3 separate regions of the Homo sapiens genome follow, and all the other regions are linked to region 2. The links come from fine-mapping of genetic effects on gene expression. A gene starts in region 2. Each other region holds a variant in brackets. All regions are shown on one strand. Distances are between the middles of the regions. Region 1 overlaps GRID2IP (Grid2 interacting protein). Region 2 holds the start of GRID2IP (Grid2 interacting protein). Region 3 overlaps LINC03016 (long intergenic non-protein coding RNA 3016).

The links. PIP is the estimated chance that this variant, and not a neighbour inherited with it, causes the effect. A credible set is the group of variants that fine-mapping cannot tell apart.
Region 1: its variant is the best candidate, but not a certain one, in a credible set for the expression of GRID2IP in transverse colon (GTEx, PIP 0.69).
Region 3: its variant is the best candidate, but not a certain one, in a credible set for the expression of GRID2IP in stomach (GTEx, PIP 0.63).

What each region holds. Positions count from the first base shown.
Region 1 is chr7:6,492,597-6,498,216 of GRCh38, forward strand. GRID2IP (Grid2 interacting protein) reads right to left here. Exons shown (of 22, transcript NM_001145118.2): 21 at 5,468-5,620; 22 at 4,182-5,249. The coding sequence ends at 5,178. Among named protein-coding and RNA genes, the nearest start is that of KDELR2, 11 kb to the left of the region's middle. The variant G/A (reference allele first, on the strand shown) is at 3,290.
Region 2 is chr7:6,548,340-6,554,753 of GRCh38, forward strand. It overlaps GRID2IP (Grid2 interacting protein), which reads right to left and starts at 3,122. Exons shown (of 22, transcript NM_001145118.2): 1 at 2,669-3,122. The coding sequence starts at 3,097.
Region 3 is chr7:7,275,733-7,282,146 of GRCh38, forward strand. LINC03016 (long intergenic non-protein coding RNA 3016) reads left to right here. Exons shown (of 4, transcript NR_108073.1): 4 at 1,853-2,337. The region is part of intron 1 of LOC107986764 (a long non-coding RNA gene); the gene reads left to right. Among named protein-coding and RNA genes, the nearest start is that of LINC03016, 24 kb to the left of the region's middle. The variant G/A (reference allele first, on the strand shown) is at 3,622.

The sequences.
Region 1 (5,620 bases), 56 kb before region 2:
GGCAGTGTGTGCCTGTAATCCCAGCTACTTGGGAGGCTGAGGCAGGAGAATCACTTGAACCCAGGAGGTGGAGGTTGCAGTAAGCTGAGATCGCGCCACTGCACTCCAGCCTGGGTGACAGAGCAAGACTCCATCTTAAAAAAAAAAGAAGAAGAAGAAGAAAGAAAGAAGGAGGATAGAGGAGGAAGGAGGAGGAGGGAGGAAGGAGGAGGAGGAGGAGACAGAGACGGAGATGGAGAGGGAGACGGAGACAGAGAAGGAGAAGGAAGAAATGCCGGGGAGAAAAGACCGAGTGAGGACACAGGGAGAAAGCTTGTCTGCAAGCCAAGGAGAACAGCCTCAGGAGAGACCCAACCTGCTGACACTTTGATCTTGGACTTCCAGCCCCCAAAACTGTGGGAAAACACATTTTTTCGTTTAAGCTGCCCAATCTATGGTATTTTTATCATAGCAGCCCTAGCAAACGAATAGACGGAACAGGAAGAGAGAAAAGAAGTAAGGGTTTTATGTTGAAACCCCCAGCATCTGTGGCCCTTAGAGTGCTGATACGTGTGTGTGTGTGTGTGTGTGTGTGTGTGTGTGTGTGTGTGTGTGTGTGTGTGTGTGTGTGTGTGTATGGCAGCTATTTTCACTCAGAGGATGGGGCTTTTGGATTTAGACAGACTTGGGTTTTAGATCCAGCAAGTCACATAACCTTCCTAAGTTTCAGAGTTTTACTTGCAAAAAAGAGGTAATGAAATCCACCTTGGGTTTTTGTGAAAGTAAAATGAAATGAAATCCGTAAAAACACTGAGCACACTAACGAACCACTCACGGATATTACTATCTGGAAAGGTGGTGTATCGTGAGGCTACGTTATTTTGTTAGTATTATTGGAGATAAATGAATTCCTGAGGCATAAGTGCCTGCATTCACACCTTGTCATTTGGTGAGGAACTAGGGGGTCTGGGTGGATATGGTACAGATATTGAGTCACATACAGGGCTTTGCACTGACTCTGGGGTAGAACCACCATAAAACATAACCCCAGGTAACCAGACTCAGAGAGGCTGCCTTCTAAGATGCTGGTACCTAGCAACGCACCTGGCACACAGTAGGCAATTAAAAAGCACTGGCCGGCCTGGCGCAGTGGCTCACGTCTGCAATCCCAGCACTTTGGGAGGCTGAGGCAGGCGGATCACGAGGTCAGCAGTTTGAGACCAGCCTGGCCAACATGTTGAAACCCCATCTCTACTAAAAATACAAAAATTAGCCGGGCGTGGTGGCACATGCCTGTAGTCCCAGCTACTCAGGAGGCTGAGGCAGGAGAATCGCTTGAACCCGAGAGGCAGAGGTTGCGGTGAGCCGAGATTATCCCACTGTACTCCAGCCTGGGCGACAGAACAAGACCCTGTCTCAAAATAATAATGATAATAAAAATATATAAAATATAAAAAGCAGGCCAGGCGCAGTGGCTCACACCTGTAATCCCAGCACTCTGGAAGGCCGAGGAGGGTGGATCACGAGGTCAGAAGATTGAGACCATCCTGGCTAACACAGTGAAACCCTGTCTCTACTAAAAAATACAAAAAATTAGTTGGACGTGGTGGCGGGTGCCTGTAGTCCTAGCTACTCGGGAGGCTGAGGCAGGAGAATGGCATGAACCCGGGAGGCAGAGCTTGCAGTGAGCTGAGAGATTGTGCCACTGCACTCCAGCCTGGGCGACAGAGTGAGACTCTGTCTCAAAAAAAAAAAAAAAAAAGGCATTGGCCAATGAGTGCAGGAAGGAAGAGCACTCACTGAGTACTGAACATCTATCAGCATCTGTTAATGGGTCTGTTAGTTAACCCTTTCAGGGTTGTAAGTAATAGCAACCATTCAAACCAGCCTAAGCCAGGGAATTTAAATACATTTAAAATTCTTTTAAATGTAAGGAGAATCTGTTGTCTTGAAGACTGACAAGGCCAGTGTGTGCTTCAGGTATGGCTGGATCCAGGGACAGTGGGATGTATATGGTGATCTTCTCCCCGTTTTTTCTCCTGTGCTAGCTTTATATCCAGGCAGGTGCCCTTCATATGGTGGTCTTGGCAGCCCCTCCTGACTCCTACCTTCTATACACCCAGAAATTCCAGAGCAAAGGGAATCTCTTTTTCAAACAGTGCCAGCCGGAGGCTTGGACTGACTCTGAGCCACACAGCCAGAGTCACAAGATCATCTTTATCCAATCACTCCAGCTCCAGGCCCTGGGAGTAGGGGAGAGATAATTTCTGAAACGAGAAACAGGAATCCTTTCCCAGCAGAAGGGCGAGACTGGTTGCCAGGCAGGCAGACCACACTGCCCACCGGACTAAGTATCTATTTCATTTATTTATGTATTATTATTATTATTTTTTGAGACAGAGTCTCCCTCTGTCACCAGGGCTGGAGTTCAGAGGCGCAATCTTGGCACACTGCAACCTCTGCCTCCCAGGTTCAATAGATTCTTGTGCCTCAGCCTCCCGAGTAGCTGGGATTACAGGCGCCTGCCACCACACTTGGCTAATTTTTGTATTTTTAGTAGAGACAGGGTTTCACCATGTTGGCCAGGCTGGTCTCAAACTCCTGACCTCAAGTAATCCACCTACCTCGGCCTCCCAAAGTGCTGGGATTACAGGCATGAGCCACTGTGCCCAGACTGGACTAAGTATCTGGATAGAAGTCAGGTAATTCATGGGTGACCAGGTAAGACACAGAAGCATGCCACCTGGTGAGTACATGGGGATGGGGAACCAGATCTGTGCTGGGTCCAGGCAGCACCAGTGCCATTGGGGATTTTAAGGAGGCTGGGATCTGCACCCCTGGCCAAGAGGTCATCCAGTAGATTAATTGCAAAAATGCTCCTGATTCTCCATCTGTCCCTGAATCCTCACCCTGTGTGGAGTGGCTTTGCGATATCTCCTAGCAGAGCCTGTTTCCCTTCCCCTAGAATCAGGGCTGGCCTTGTCATTTGGATGGACAGCAGATTGTGGCAGAAGGCACGGTGTACCAGCTCTGAGCCTCAGCCTCAAGCCATCTTCTGTGCCTTTGGTTGTTCACCTTCTTTGACCCCCAGTCCCCTCATGAAAAAAATCCTGGCTATTTGGGTGCAAAATGAGAGACCCCACAGGGCTATCCCAGCTTTTCCAGCCAAAGGCCCCAGACATGAGATTGCTTGGTATGATTACCAAAGCTGCCTAGCTGACTCATAGCTGACTGAAGATGCAGAGCCTAGCTCAGATCAGAACTGGGACCCAGAGACTTGTGAGCAGTAAGTGATTGCTGTTTGAAGCCA[G/A]TGAGTTTTGGGACAGTTTGTTATGCAGCGTTGTTGTAGCAAACAACCAATAAAAGGCATGCTAGGGAGAAAACCTAGCTGGTGCTTGGCCTGCCACACTGTGCAATCAAGAGGTTAGGTCTCCTGGAAGGGACATGTGTTTCTAACTTGCAGGAAAATGCCATGTGGGCTAACCAGGCCTGGAAATCACGCCTGTTGGAGTCTATTATCTCTACAGATCTTATGCAGGGTTTTTTTTTTTTTTTTCAAATGGAGTCTCACTCTGTCGCTCAGGCTGGAGTGCAGTGGCAGGATCTTGGCTCACTGCAACCTCCGACCCCCAGGTTCAAGCAATTCTTCTGCCTCAGCCTCCCAAGTAGCTGTGAATACAAGCGCGTGCCACCACGCCCGGCTAATTTTGTGTATTTTTAGTAGAGATATGGCTTCACTATGTTGGCCAGGCTGGTCTTGAACTTCTGGCCTCAGGTGATCCACCTGCCTCAGCCTCCCGAAGTGTTGGAATTACAGGCGTGAGCCCCCACGCCCTGCCTGCAGAGGTTTTAACTGACCTCCTGACATGTTTCCCAGAGACACAGGCACTGGGAACTTTTGGAAACAATTCTGCTTGAGCTGCTAGGGTGAAATGTACCCCACTAGCCACATCCCCCTTGCAGTATATATTTTGGTTTTGATGTTTTTGTATGGTGCTTGTGTGCAAGGAACAAAAAAACAAAGGTGGCTTCCAAGAGGGGCCTAGGGGAGACTGGGAAGAACTGAACAGGTTCCCAGTACTGCCCAGGTGCAATGTAAGCCATTTGATTGCAGTGGGAGAAAAAGAATCCATGAGACAGGATTAAAGCCCATTTCAGACTTTTCCAAAAAAAAAAAAAAAAAAAAGTGCAACGAGGGAAGCTGTCTGATCCAAGGATCTGTCAATCAGAGAATTTTAAAAAAGGTGAAACAGTTCACACACCCTCCCTCCCTGCCCACCACGCCACCTGCTCCTGCTCCTGGTATCCAGGTAACTCCTGCTATATGCCTAGGCACATGTAAAATGACCATTTGGGTCCCAAACACATCCCAGATTGTGTCATCTGCCCCCACACCTGCCCCGGTCTCATGACTTGCTCCAGGGAACATCACCATCCGTCCAGGTGAGAAGTCTGGCAGTTGGCCACCAGATCCTGCTCACCTCCTGCCTCAACACCTCCCCATTCTGTCTGCTCTACCTTGACCACACCTATTCCACTCCCAGGCTCCCCACTTCCAATTGGGCCACCTCTACACAGGTTTGGGTTTGTCCACTGCATGAAACCTCAATTCCGCAGTCTGACATAGGGGGTCTTCCTTCTCCAGTCCTTCCTTCCCTGCGTCTCTCCCAGGCTTCTCTCTTCCTGTGTCCCTGAAGCCAGCTTCCAAGGCCCAGGCTGGGCGTGCACATCCCCAGGGCCCCTCTACATCCGGCTTTCTGCCCTCTCGCGTCTCGCGCCTGCCTGCAGGGTCGTGCTCAAGGGTGTCGGCCCCCTCACAGGGACCCACTAGGAGCAGGATCAGAAAAAAGGTCCACATGTCCCAGGAATGTGGCCACTTTGTAATCCACCCTCCAGGCCCCCCTGACAGCCTGGGAGCGAAGTGGGAAGTGGGCCCAAGAAGCCGACAGAGCACGGTCCTCCATGTGCAGGCACACTCAGCACCTGCTCCTACAGCATCTGGCTCTGGGCCTGGGGGTAGGAACAAGGGCTGGCAGAGGAGGGCCCGACCACAGCTCGGCGGCTGAGGTAGCTGCAGGAGAGGCTGGCGGTGTGCTCAGAGCCCGGGGCACAGTGGCCCCGGACCTCGGCAGTGTCTGGGCTGCCCTCTCGGCCTCCATCTCCCTGCTCAGGCCGCAGAGGACGCGGTGTGGCCACTGTCACCAGGCCAGGGGTGAAACCATCCCGGAGCTGCGCAGGCCCTCCCCGGCCTGCAGGTCACTCAGCGCTCGCTGGGGAGGGGGAACACAGAGGTAGGGTGGTCAGTGGTCCCAGGAACCTGTGACGCCTTCCCTGTCTCTTCCCACACTAGACAGCCCATCAGGGGGTTAGGGGGACATGTCGCTCACTGGAGCCCCTTTCCCAGCCCTGGCTTCATGGAGGATCCCTTCATTTGGCCTCTGGCCCCCACCTCTCCAAAAGGGCCCCTCAGGGCTCCAGCGAGGCTCACCTCGAATTTGCTCATGAACTCTGCAAAGATGCCGAAGAAAGCCTCAGAGGTGGTGGCCTTGGAATCCTCCCCAAAGAAGGCCAGCGCCTTGCCCAGCTCCTCCATGGCCTCGCGCTGCAGCCCGTCGAGCGCCCGAAGTGCTGGCTGGGCCGT
Region 2 (6,414 bases):
ACTCTGGCTCCAAAAAAAATAAATACAAACTTAAACGGTGTAGATGGATTGTTTATAACTCAAAAGATAAATGCTTGAGGGGATGGGTACCCCATTCTCCATGACATGCTTATTTCACATTGCATGCCTGTATTAGAGTATCTCAGATACCCCATAAATATATACACGTATTAGGTACCCACAAAAATTAAAAATCAAAATAATGTAAAAAAAGTTGGCCAGATGCGGTGGCTCACGCCTGTAATCCCAGCACTCTGGGAGGCCGCAGCAGATGGATCACGAGGTCAGGAGTTCAAGACCAGCCTGACCAATATGGTGAAACCCCATCTCTACTAAGAATACAGAAAAAAAAAATAGCTGGCCATGGTGGGGTACGCCTGTAATCCCAGCTACGCGGGAGGCTGAGGCAGGAGAATCACTTGAACCCAGGAGGTGGAGGTTGCAGTGAGCCGAGATCACACCACTGCACTCCAGCCTGGGTGACAGAGCGAGACTCTGCCTCAAAAAAAAAAAAAAAAAAGTCTATGAGCTTAAGTGTCCCAGCCGCCAAGCAAATACTGAGTTTCCAGGCTTCATGTCCACAGGGGTCCGATAGCCAGGCAGGGGTAGGGACTGAGTGTCTTGGCTCCGGACTATTTCCTAGTCGCACACAGGATCACTTTTTGTTCCATTCAAGTATTAGTGAAATAAAGGCCTTAGGACCCCATCTGAAAGCCCTGGAGGACAGGAGTGAAGGTGAATGGCATGGGAGGTTGCTGTACTGGGACCTAGTCAGTGGCCTGGGGTAGCTGTAACCATACTAGGCAGCTTCTTCTTTTATAACCATGTCACGTCCCAGGTTTCTTGGAATTGCCTGGATCTGTCCAGTAAATGGCAGGTTCCTGCAAATCAGGGGTTGCTTGGGATTCAGGCCTGAGACCGACTCTATCCTCCCTCTTTCCATCCCAGCCCTGGGTCTCTAAATGGTGCCTCCATCTTGGCTTGTGGCCACACCCTACTTCCTGCAGGTGACTCAGGCCTTGGGTTCTTCTTGTGGCTAGAGGTCTGATCCATTCCAGGCTCCTCATTCTTAATCTTCAGGACCACGCTAATATTCCACCTGCAGTCTATCACAGCCTGGTTTGTGCCAAAGTCAAGAGGAAATGCCTTTGGCAGATTGGTGAAGCCAAACTAGGGCCTCCTGCAGCCAACAAGCCAGCCAGGCCGCTGTGCAAGGGCAGGTCTAATCCTGGTTTTGTGGGGGCTTAGAACAGGCGGAATTCTTTTACATTTTTTTGGAGGTGGGGAATGGCGGGGAGGGGAATGGAGTCTCACTCTGTCACTCAGGCTGCAGTGCAGTAGCATGATCTCAGCTCACTGCAACCTCCGTCTCCCAAGCTCAAGTAATCCTCCCACCTCAACACCCTTGAGTATCTGGCACCACAGGCGCGCGCCACCACACCTGGCTGGTTTTTTTTTTTTTTATATTTTTGATAGTGATGGGATTTCACCACATTGCCCAGGCTGGTCTCAAACTCCTGAGTTCAAGTCATCAGCCCTCCTCAGCCTCCCAAAGTGCTGGGATTACAGGCGTGAGCCACCTCACCCCACTGGCTCTTTTACACTTGATCTTAGATGAAGGGCCAAGAAGCGATATCTGTGGCTCTTTTTATTTTATCTTTTTATTTTAGAGATGCGGTCTCACTCCGTTACCCAGGCTGGAATGCAGTGGTGCAGTCATGGCTCACTGCAGCCTCAAACTCCCAGGCTGAAGCGATCTTCCTGCCTCAGTCTCCTGAGTATCTGGGACTATAAGGCATGCACCACCATGCCAAGCTAGTTTTTGATTTTTTTTGTAGAGATGGTGTCTCATTACGTTGCCCAGGCTGGCCTTGAACTCAGGGTCTCAAGTGATCCTCCCACCTTGGTCTCCTAAAATGCTAGGATTACATCTAGCACCTGGCCTGCAGTTAAGTTCTAATGGGGAGGATAGACAGAGAAAGGGGCACGTGGGAACATTCTGGTGTCAATTATTCTATAGTCTACATTATATTTTTATCTATATCCTATTATTTTATATATTGATCAAGAGGGTGGTTATTCAAGGGTGCATGTATATGGAAAATTTATTGAGCTGCACACTTAATGCACTTTACACCTATAGTACCTTAATAAAAAAGAAACACAAGTGAATAAAAATTGCAAAATTAGGCCGGGCGCAGTGGCTCATGCCTGTAATCCCAGCACTTTGGGAGGCAGAGGTGGGCAGATCACTTGAGGTCAGGAGTTTGAGACCAGACTGACCAACATGGTGAAACCCCGTCTCTACTAAAAATACCAAAAAAAAAAAAAAAAAAAAAATTAGCTGGGTGTGGTGGCAAACGCCTGTAATCTCAATTACTGGAAGACTGAGGCAGGAGAATCACTTGAACTTGGGAGGCAGAGGTTGTACTGAGCCAAGACCTGGCCACTGCACTCCAGCTTGGGTGACAGAGCGAGACTCTGTCTCAAAAAAAAAAAATGCAAAATTGTTTGCAAGGTTTTGAAGTTGAGCATTCCCATATTTCTGTTAAATCTGACCCCAGAAGTTTCCTTACCTCTGGCCCTGGGAGAGCGGCGCCCGGCCCACTCCCTGCCCACATTATGAGCCCCCTCCTTCCCGCCCCCACCTCCCACCCCCGCGCCTTACCTTGCGGCTGAACTCTTGGGCCTTGCGCCTGCGCTCTCGGTGCACCGCGTCCGGGCGCTTGCGGCCGGCCAGGCGAAGCAGCTCACGGCCCAGAGCTAGGCCGCGGCCGCACCGCGGGGCCCGCAAGACTGTGGTCGGGGCCGCGGGGCCGGATCCTGGGCCGGGGCCACCGTCGGGAGCCGGGAGCACGCCCAGACTGGGCGGCACACGTGGGCAGCGCCGTGCCAGGCGCACGAGGCGCTCGCGGCTCAGACCGCCCACCGCCAGCCCCTCCACCTCCAGGATCTGGTCTCCTGGCCGCAGTCCTCCGGCATGCGCGCTGCTCCCCTTGGCCACCTCCAGGACGAAGCAGGGGCCAGAGCCACCTAGCCGGAAGCCAAAGTCCTCTGGCCAGCCCTGGTTCGTGGCCGGCGTGGCAGTGGTGGCCATGCACCTAGAACTGGAGACAGAACAGGGATTTCCTTGCTGCTCTGTCCATGGCTCCAAAGCCACTCAAAGGCCCAGGGCCACTGAAGGCCTCTACTTATCTCTGCCTCCTCCCTCTGACTCCGTCTTTGTCTCAATTCCCTTCCATCTATGTTTTTTTGTTTTGTTTTGTTTTTGTTTTTTTAAGACAGAGTTTCGCTCTTGTTGCCCAGGCTGGAGTGCAATGGCGTGATCTCAGCTCACCGCAACCTCCGCTTACTGGGTTCAAATGATTCTCCTGCCTCAGCCTCCTGAGAAGCTGGGATTACAGGCATGTGCCACCAAGCCTGGCTAATTTTGTATTTTTAGTAGAGACGGGGTTTCTCCATGTTGGTCAGGCTGGTCTCGAACTCCTGACCTTAGGTGATCTGCCTGCCTTGGCCTCCCAAAATGCTGGGATTACAGGCGTGAGCCACCGTGCCTGGCTTGCCTAATTGTTGTATTTTTAGTAGAGACAGGGTTTCACTATGTTACCCAGGCTGGTCTTGAACTCCTGGCCTCAGGTGATCTGCCTGCTTGGCCTCTCAAAGTGCTAGGATTACAGGCATGAACCATCATGCCTGGCTTGTTTTTTTGTTTTTTGTTTGTTTGTTTGTTTGTTTTTACTAAAAACAAAATTGGGGAGGGGGTGTAAAAGAAAAATGGCCCTTCCTTAAAGTCTTCTTTTGAGTGCCTTGGATTTTTAACCAATGCGGCCACATCCTTTTCCATGGGCCCCTCCTGCTTCCACAGGTCTGTTTTACTGTCTTACATGTACACTTGGCTTCCATGGGCCCTCCTCACTCCCTACACTTTAATCCCTCTTCTTACCCCTCTCCATCTACCAAAATTCCCTTTCGGGATCTGGCATGAATCACAAACTTACGGAAGTCCAGAATGTTGGAGCAGAATGGTCCCTCAGAGACCATTCATATCTTTGGGCATTTATTTTATTTTATTTTATTTTTGAGACAGAGTCTTGTTCTGTCACCCAGGCTGGAGTGCAGTGGTGTGATCTCGGCTCACTGCAACCTCTGACTCCTGGGTTCAAGCGATTCTCCTGCCTCAGCCTCCCGAATAGCTGGGATTACAGGTGTCCACCACCATGCGCGGCTACTTTTTGTATTTTTAGTAGAGACAGGGTTTCACCATATTGGCCAGGCTGGTCTCCAACTCCTGACCTCAGGTGATCCACCTGCCTTGGCCTCCCAAAGTGCTGTGATTACAGGCGTGAGCCACCGTGCCCAGCCTCTTGGGCTTTATTTTTTAGAGGCAAAGTCTCACTCTGTCACCCAGTCTGGAATGCAGGAACACCATCATATCTCACTGCAGCCTTGACCTTCCAAGCTGAAGTCATCCTCCTGCCTCAGCCTCCTGAGTAGCTGGGATCACAGGCGCATACTACCATGCCCAGCTAATTAAAAAAAAATTTTTATAGAAATGGGGTCTCACTATGTTGCCCAGACAGGTCTCAAACTTCTGGGCTCAAGCGATCCTCCTTCTTCAGCCTCCCAAAGTGCTGGGATTACACATGTGAGCCACTGCACCCAGCCTGGGGGAGACTTTAGAAACCTCCTCAGAGGCCGGGTGCGGTGGCTCACGCCTGTAATCCCAGCACTTTGCGAGGCAGAGGCGGGCGGCTCACGAGGTCAGGAGATCGAGACCATTCTGGTTAACATGGTGAAACCCCGTCTCTACTAAAACTACAAAAAAAATTAGCCAGGATGGTGGCGGGTGCTTGTAGTCCCAGCTACTCGGGAGGCTGAGGCAGGAGAATGGCATGAACCCGGGAGGCGGAGCTTACAGTGAGCCGAGATTGCACTACTGCACTCCACTCCATCCAGCCTGGGCGACAGAGCGAGACTCCATCTCAAAAAAAAAAAAAAGAAAGAAAGAAACCTCCTCAGACCCAGCATGTGGCGTGTCTGCACTTTGAGACAGGAGAGGGCCCTAACCCAAGGTCACCCAGCTGGGGAATGGCAGTGCCAGGTCACCCTCAGGCCCCATCCAAGGCTGTCTCCACAGAGCCTCCACACACACCTCAGGCAAAGCCTCAAACCTCTGTCCAGACGTCTCCTGCCTGGCTTGAGGATGCCCTCACTGGCTTCCCCTCACTCGTGTTGTAGGAGGTGGAGTGGGTTGATGTCCTCTTTCCTATGCCCTAGGATTTGGGGAACAAACATTTATGTACTGGCCCTGGTGGCCAGGGTGAGCATTGACCAGGCTGGCCAATCACTGTATCTCAGCCTTTGTGTCCTACAGAGGGCTTTTTGGAGCCCCTGCAGAGTTGATACTTTGGTCCTGAGAGAGAACGGTCTTTCTGTGGGTCCGTTGGCTGTATGGACGTCAAAGGTTTGGGGCTGCTGGCAGCCATGTTGCCACCCTGTGGAGGATCAGTTCTTATGACATCATCCGAACTCCTGGATCCAGCTGTGCCTGAAATGCACCCAACTTACATTTGACAGAAGGACTTCTCAGTAACACAGGCTCATAAATTCCTCTTTTTGGTTGTTGTTTTTTAAAGCCTGTTTGGCTGGATGAGGTGGCTCACGCCTGTAATCTCAGTGCTTTGGAAGACTGAGACAGGAGGATCACTTGAGCCCAGGAGTTCAAGACAGCCTGGACAACAGAACAAGACCCTGCCTTTTTTTTTTTTTTTTTTTGAGACGGAGTTTCGCTCTGTCACCCACACTGGAGTGCAGTGGCTCGATCTTAGCTCACTGCAACCTCCACCTCCCAGGTTTAAGCAATTCTCCTGCCTCAGCCTCCCGAGTAGCTAGAATTGCAAGTGTACACCACCATGCATGGCTAATTTTTGTATTTTTTTTGTAGAGACAGGGTTTTGCCATGTTGGCCAGGCTGGTCTCAAACTCCTGGCCTCAGGTGATTCACCCGCCTCAGCCTCCGACAGTGCTGGGATTGCAGGCATAAGCCAGACCCTGTCTTAAAAAAAAAAATTAGCTGAGCATGATGGTACACACCTGTAGTCCTAGCGACTCAGGAGGCTGAGGTGGGAGGATTGCCTGAACCCAGGAGTCTGAGGCTGCAGTGAGCCATGATGGTGCCACCACACTCCAGCCTGGGAAGTAGAGTGAGACCCTGTCTCAAAAATAGACAAACAAATGAATAAGTAAATAAATAAATACATTTAAAAAAATTTAAGGCTGTTTAGAGTTCAGATGCAATCACTTGCAACTAGTGGGACACTCAGTGCTAGAAACCTCTAAGTAAAGAGGAAACAGGAAGAGCTCTCATATGAAAGTTGCATCTCGGCCGGGCACGGTGGCTCACGCCTGTAATCC
Region 3 (6,414 bases), 730 kb after region 2:
TATTTTTGATAGTGCAACAAGTATAGAGCTCAGACCCGTTTCCGGTGACTTCCTTTAGGAAATCTCAGTATATATTTGTTCATTAATGTGCAATAAGAATAAGCTTTCTAAAATTTGGACAAGTAGAAAAAAGTGGTATTTCTGTTCTTTGAATAAAAAGCAAATGCATTTAAAACACGCATAATACACAAGTAGGTAAATTTATCAAAAGGAAAAAGTGATCAATCCTATTTAAACTACCTGTTTTACAATTGCAATAGTTTCTTATTCAGAAATGTATTAGGTCAACTTAAGTACTATTTATTACATCAGAACTACCAACACCTTTAGTACCCTGTTTGGAAGACCGAACATGGATCAGATGTTAGTCCCACCTTAGATATAGCAAATCATTTATTTCCATTTTAATAGTTGAAATTTAGAAAGCAAACGGACCCAGAGGGGATATGCCCACAAGCAGGAGATGAACGTGTTCCAAATGGCAGTATATTTCCAAGGAGACTTACAGGCTTTTTATTCCAAGGATTGGCTCAATACTTCATTACTCAGAAAGTGTGTTTGATCAGGCGAGACCTTCAAATTTGAGCTCCTCTGTGGTCAGGGGAATGCTAATGACTGTCTGACAGCTTGTCACAGACATTGGATTTTTTTTCTTAGCATCTCTGGCCAGATTTCCTGTTTTCTGGCAGCTGTGCTGGTGCAGATTGCCAAGAGGCACCATACCCACAATCTTGAGAGGATTCTGTTTCCAGCAAGCCTTCTTTTACTGTCATCTATGTATTACATCTCTATTTCAAGTCTCTCTAGAATTTATAGTCATACTGGGCATTTAGTTTCAATTTGCATTTGTTTGTTACGTGGCTTTACATGACTTTTTGTCTACTTCATGAATCTGTCCGATCTTCCCAGTAGATCTAAGTACCTGGAGGATCTGACTCTCTTTGACATAGAGAGACTCCCCAGAGACCATGCCTTTGATTTCATTTATAGCCCTTTAGGACAGTGTTTCCCCCTCAAACTCTCTTGCAGACTGGTAAATGTCCTAAATTACCATTTAGGAGTGGGGAATAGAAGGAATGGAGTAGGAAGTGAAATCCAAGACAAGTCACAGTACCTGTTCATAAAAGGGAGGGGTTGCTAGGCAGGAAATCTTTGCCACTCTGGTCTTTTCTCTTAGAGAACACTACCCAGGACTGCTCATCGATCATTGTCAACTATTTACTTTTACGTTAGGGTAAAAATGACCTTATATGCAAGTAGTAGTGATTCTTAGAGTAATATATGATGCCTAAACAATATCTGCAGGTGGTAATAAATTAGAGGTGTGACAGGGCAGTGCTTCACAAATGTTCCAGCTCAAGGTACAATCTCAAGCTTGTTCCAGCAAGTACATGCCCATGTATAGGGGTTAGGGGCTTTGTCTTCTACCTTCACCATTCCTAAGGTATTTAAATCCAAGTCTCTAATAACTTATTCTGGTTTTTAAAGAGGGTAGTTGTTCACATGATAATAATTTCAATAGGGCTGAGATGTTTTGGAGCATGGTAGATGGGCATCACTCCTACTGAGGCTTGCAGGCAAAGAGGAAGACAGATATTGACATTTCTCAGCACTGGTACATGTGCTGCAAGTCACCTATTGGTCAGTTGTAAGAGCAGGTGCAGGACAGTGTATATACAAGTCAACACTGGGAGAGGCACATGTAAGAGCTGAGGGCTTATAGCAAGGCTTGGGCAAAGCAAGGGGTATGGTTGAGCCAGAAAGTCTATGAGAATGAAAAGGCCAGGGGTAGAACCTCAGGCCTCAGATCTTGGTTAAATCCTAAAAACTACTCATTGTGCTTCTGTTGCAGACAATGCATAGGAGTGAATGAGACAGAAAGCAAGACCATGAGGATGACTAAGAAGAGCAAGTACAACATGGCTGAGACTAAGTGTCCAGGGAGTTGAGAATAAGTGGCCTATTGTCATGTCCTATATAAGTAGAGTATATGGATGGGAGGCCAAGAATACACCAACAAATAAAATATTGAATATATCGGTCAAGGGCATATCGAGATGATCAGGATGCTGCCTATTGGAATGTTTATCCTCCCACCCTACCCCAGAAGAGGAGCTTCTCGTCTTGTTCACCGCTGTTTCCCAGCTCCTGGAAGAGCCTGGCACATAAAAGGTGCACAATGAACATTCATTAAAATCAATGATTAATTGAACTGGCTAGTATTCCATCTCACTTTCATTACTGGAGAACTGAAGAGCCAGCTAGCCTACAAAAACTCATTCTGGATGTAGAAGCAATAAGAAAACATGCATTCAAATAAAAGCAGAGAATCCTTCTAATATTTCTTCATGTGTCTATCTTTTCCCATCCCCAACACATTTATTTTCCTTGACCTACAAAGGATCTGTTTTGTCCATGATGAGTCCCAAAAACAGCCCTCAAAGTGGTTCTCCCCACCTACCCCACTCCACTGATGCTGCATCACATGGTAGGGTGTTGCCTTGCTCCTCCATGCAGGGAGCTTTTCTCAGCACCACTAAGGTACCAGGGAAGTGGTAACTGGGAACAATTTTCCCCAATACAGATAAAGCCTAGATAAAAAGTAGGGTGATACATAGGCAAGGGGTAGATGGGGCCTTCCTAGAGGACACTATGTCTTCCTGAATTTAGTCCATTCATAATCAACAAACCAGCCCTACTGATTTAATGCCTAGGCTCTGCTGCCTGACTATATTTAGCAAAGCTTTTGAATGGCAGAGTGATTTCCTATAGGAATACTGAGTTTTTTCCAGGGACAGATGTAGCCTTGGTACATTGTCTGGTTATGTAGGATTTTTTTTTTTTTTTTTTTTTTTACTGCACTTGTGCTGTTCTCCTTTTTTCAACTTATAGCTGGAGACCGTTTTCTGCTACCTCAAAACCTTTTTGAAATTAACCAGTAATAAATAAGATCTTTCTCTATAGACAGCTTTTTTCAAAGGAATAAAAGAATTAGAAAATATGGAGGATCCATAGTATGCACGCCTTTGGTTCCTGAGGTCCCTTAGATGATATGGAATTCTTTAAAAATGTAGATCGATTTTGATAACATCATAATCAAGATCCTAAGAAATCACTAGCATCCATCAGATTATAAAGTTTCTGAGCAATTCTCTCCCCAACCCCCATCCTGAGCCTAACATGGTGACTTGCTCACAGCCTCACTGGATAGATACTGGTTAGATAAATGAAAGCATTCATTAATCAATGTGATGTGAAGAATTTAGATAAATGATTCCTATTTCTCTCAGTCTAACAAGGGGAAATAGTCCAATAAACATATCTGTAAGTTTAATAGAATTTGTAAGTTCCTTTGAATATTTGGAAATCTATGATTTCATTTTTAAGACACACAGAATCTATTATGATAGAGCACTGAATTTTATTCAGTTAGGTAATTTTGTGCCTCTTATTTTTAACCAGTTTGGTGTCTTTCTTGTGCTTTTCACTATAGTATTCATGGATCCTATTAACAGTAAAGAAAGTGGCAGACGCCAGGCATGGTAGCTCATGCCTGTAATCCCAGCACTTTGAGAGGCTGAAGCAGAATTATTTGAGGCCAGGAGTTCAAGACCAGCCTGG[G/A]CAACATAGTGAGAACCTTTTTGTTGTTACTGTTGTTGTTGTTTTTTAAAGAGAGAGTAGAGATACTAGGTTACTCCGTGGTGAGGCTTGGGATGGTGGTGGGAATGGAGTGGAGGAGGGACTTCCTTCCCAATGACTAGATATGTCTTAATTTGTAAGACGGCTCTCTCCCATGTGACTTTCTCTCCTCTACCTATGTCAACTTTGTGTTGGGAGTGTTCAGGACAATATGTGAATGGAAAATTCATAAATGAATGTACCAATAGAAATAAAGATACATGTGGGTGTTGCTTTTTCACTTTTTCAATGAAGATCTGATCCTTTGGTGTTTTACTTGGTCCCAATCCCACTTTTCCACAAGTTGTGGCTAAGGACTTGTCCTTGATTATAAGATTCTGGTTGTTGAAACTGTTATTTATGCATGAAGGACTACTCAGAATATCACTGTAATTACACATCTGCCCCTCTGAGTTCTTCAAAAATAGGAACATGACAGATATGTTTGGAAAAGGTTAAAAATATGCTTAATGCTAAAAGGAAAATGAGCTAAAATTTTCCTGGTATTGTATTATAGTTCTATATTTTATGATGATCTTTATTGCAATAGTTATACCTTGACTTTACAAAATTCTTTCATGTTTTAACCCTTGGTGTCCATACTTTTGCCTTTGGGAATATCATGCAGGCTTGATGTAACCATTTTGCTTATAAGACAAGCAAATTGGACCAGCCACAGTGGCTCACACCTTTAATCCAAGCACTTTGGGAGGCCAAGGGGAACAGAACACTTGAGTCCAGGAGTTCGAGACTAGCCTGGGCAACATGGTAAAACCTTGTCTCTACTAAAAATACAAAAATTTGCCAGGCATGGTGGCACACGCCTATAATCCCAGCTACTCAGGAGGCTGAGGCATGATCTTTTGTCAATTTAGTTTACAGGGCCCCAGCAACAGAACCTTGAAGGGTAAAAGAAAAGAAACCGTGTTCTTCCCTGCAATACAATAGGAGAGTTCAAAGGATGTGACTCAGGGTAGGTCAGAGATCCACAAGGGTTTCATTTCTGTTGTCAAAATAAGTACAGTGAAAATACCTACGAAAAGTAATAATTTAGAGACTATTAGTAAATAGTTCTTTGGTATAAGGTAATTTGTCATATTATTTGACTGGGGAAGGAACTTAGGTCATCCTCAGCTCTGGGATGCCTACACGGCAGGCAGATTGGTGCTTTTTGCAGCCTCACAGAAGACAGAAACAAGCAGAGGGCAAAAGATAGAACTCAGAAGGAGAAAGTCTAGTTGACAGAGCAGGAACATCGCCATCTTGGACAAGCACTGCCATTTTAATGTTCACCTTCATCAAAAACCTCGTAAATCCAAGGGCATCAGCCTAATGACTAAGGTCAGAATGACCATAAGCCACAAATGACATCTCTTACCAGAAACATTCCAACCATAAGATAAACCCCTCCCCAACCAGAGACTTGCCAGCCCCAAGATAACCTCCCCTCCAGCCAGAGAGATGTCAGCCCCAAGATAACCTCCCCTCCAGCCAGAGACATTCCAACCCTGCAATAAATTTCTCCCCCACCAGAAACATTCCAAGCCTGTGGTAAGTTCTCTCACCCTGAACCCTTAAATACTTATTCTGTAAGACAGAAGGCTCCTAACCAAAAATCAGCCAGAAGCCCCTCTCAGGTTTATTCTCCAAAATAAACCTGTCTTTGACGGTTGAGCTGCTTTTCATGTTTCTTTCCTCTTTGGCTCTTATGCTAGCGCTGTAGTGCTACTTCACTATTTTTTTTTCTAGAACAGCTGAAATTCTCTTTTTATGTAGAATGAGACTCAGGGAGATTTGATCACTTTATAAATTTTTTTTCAAAGCAGGTCCCATTTCTTTCCATCCCTTTCAACAATCCTCAGTGCCTTATATAAATGACAGTTTTCTAATAAATGACAATATTCTAGCTTAGTAGACAATAAACAAAATGGAGAGGGAGAGTTTTGCATAGTCTTAAATAATAGCTAAATAAAATATAATCATCAACTTAAAGATGAGAACTCTAATTACCACATATTGTGAACAATTTCCATATAATTAACTGTTGTTTAGGCTATAGAGTAACTAAGACAGCTCTCTGGTTTTCCTGTATGTAGAAAACATATTGGTTTGGCAGATGTTTTACTTACTATCAATTGCTTTTCAATAGATAGTTTCTCTTCCTTTGCAGTGAATTCAACACAATCCACTTAAAACAACAAATGTTTATTGAGTAATCAGTACATACAAGGCAATATGTTAGGCCTGAGAAGAAAAACAAAAATAAGCCTCAATACTTTCTCTTGAGAAGGTAACAAAAAGGAATAAAATGTATGTGTAAATTATGATAATCTGTGGCAGAAAAAGTAAGTGAATAAACATTTCATCTGGGTGGAAAAGTTTGGTCTTACATTTGTGATGATACTAGAAGGTAGGCAAGATTTAAAGGGCTGAGACTAAGGAGTTTCCAAGAAAAGGGAACACTGCCTATGAAAATATGAGGCAGATAATCTTGAAGTGTCTTAGTTTTTTCAAGTTTCTATAACAAAATATAAACCACGTGGCTTATAAACAATAGCAATTTATTTCTCACTGTTCTAGATGCTGGTCCAAGATCAAGGCACCAGCAGATACAGTGTCTGGTAAGAGCCCATTTCCTCGCTCCTAACTGACACCTTTCTTGCTGTATCCTTAGATGGTAAAAGGGGCTAGCTAGCTCTCTGGTGTATCTCTTATAAGCATACTAATACCTGTCAT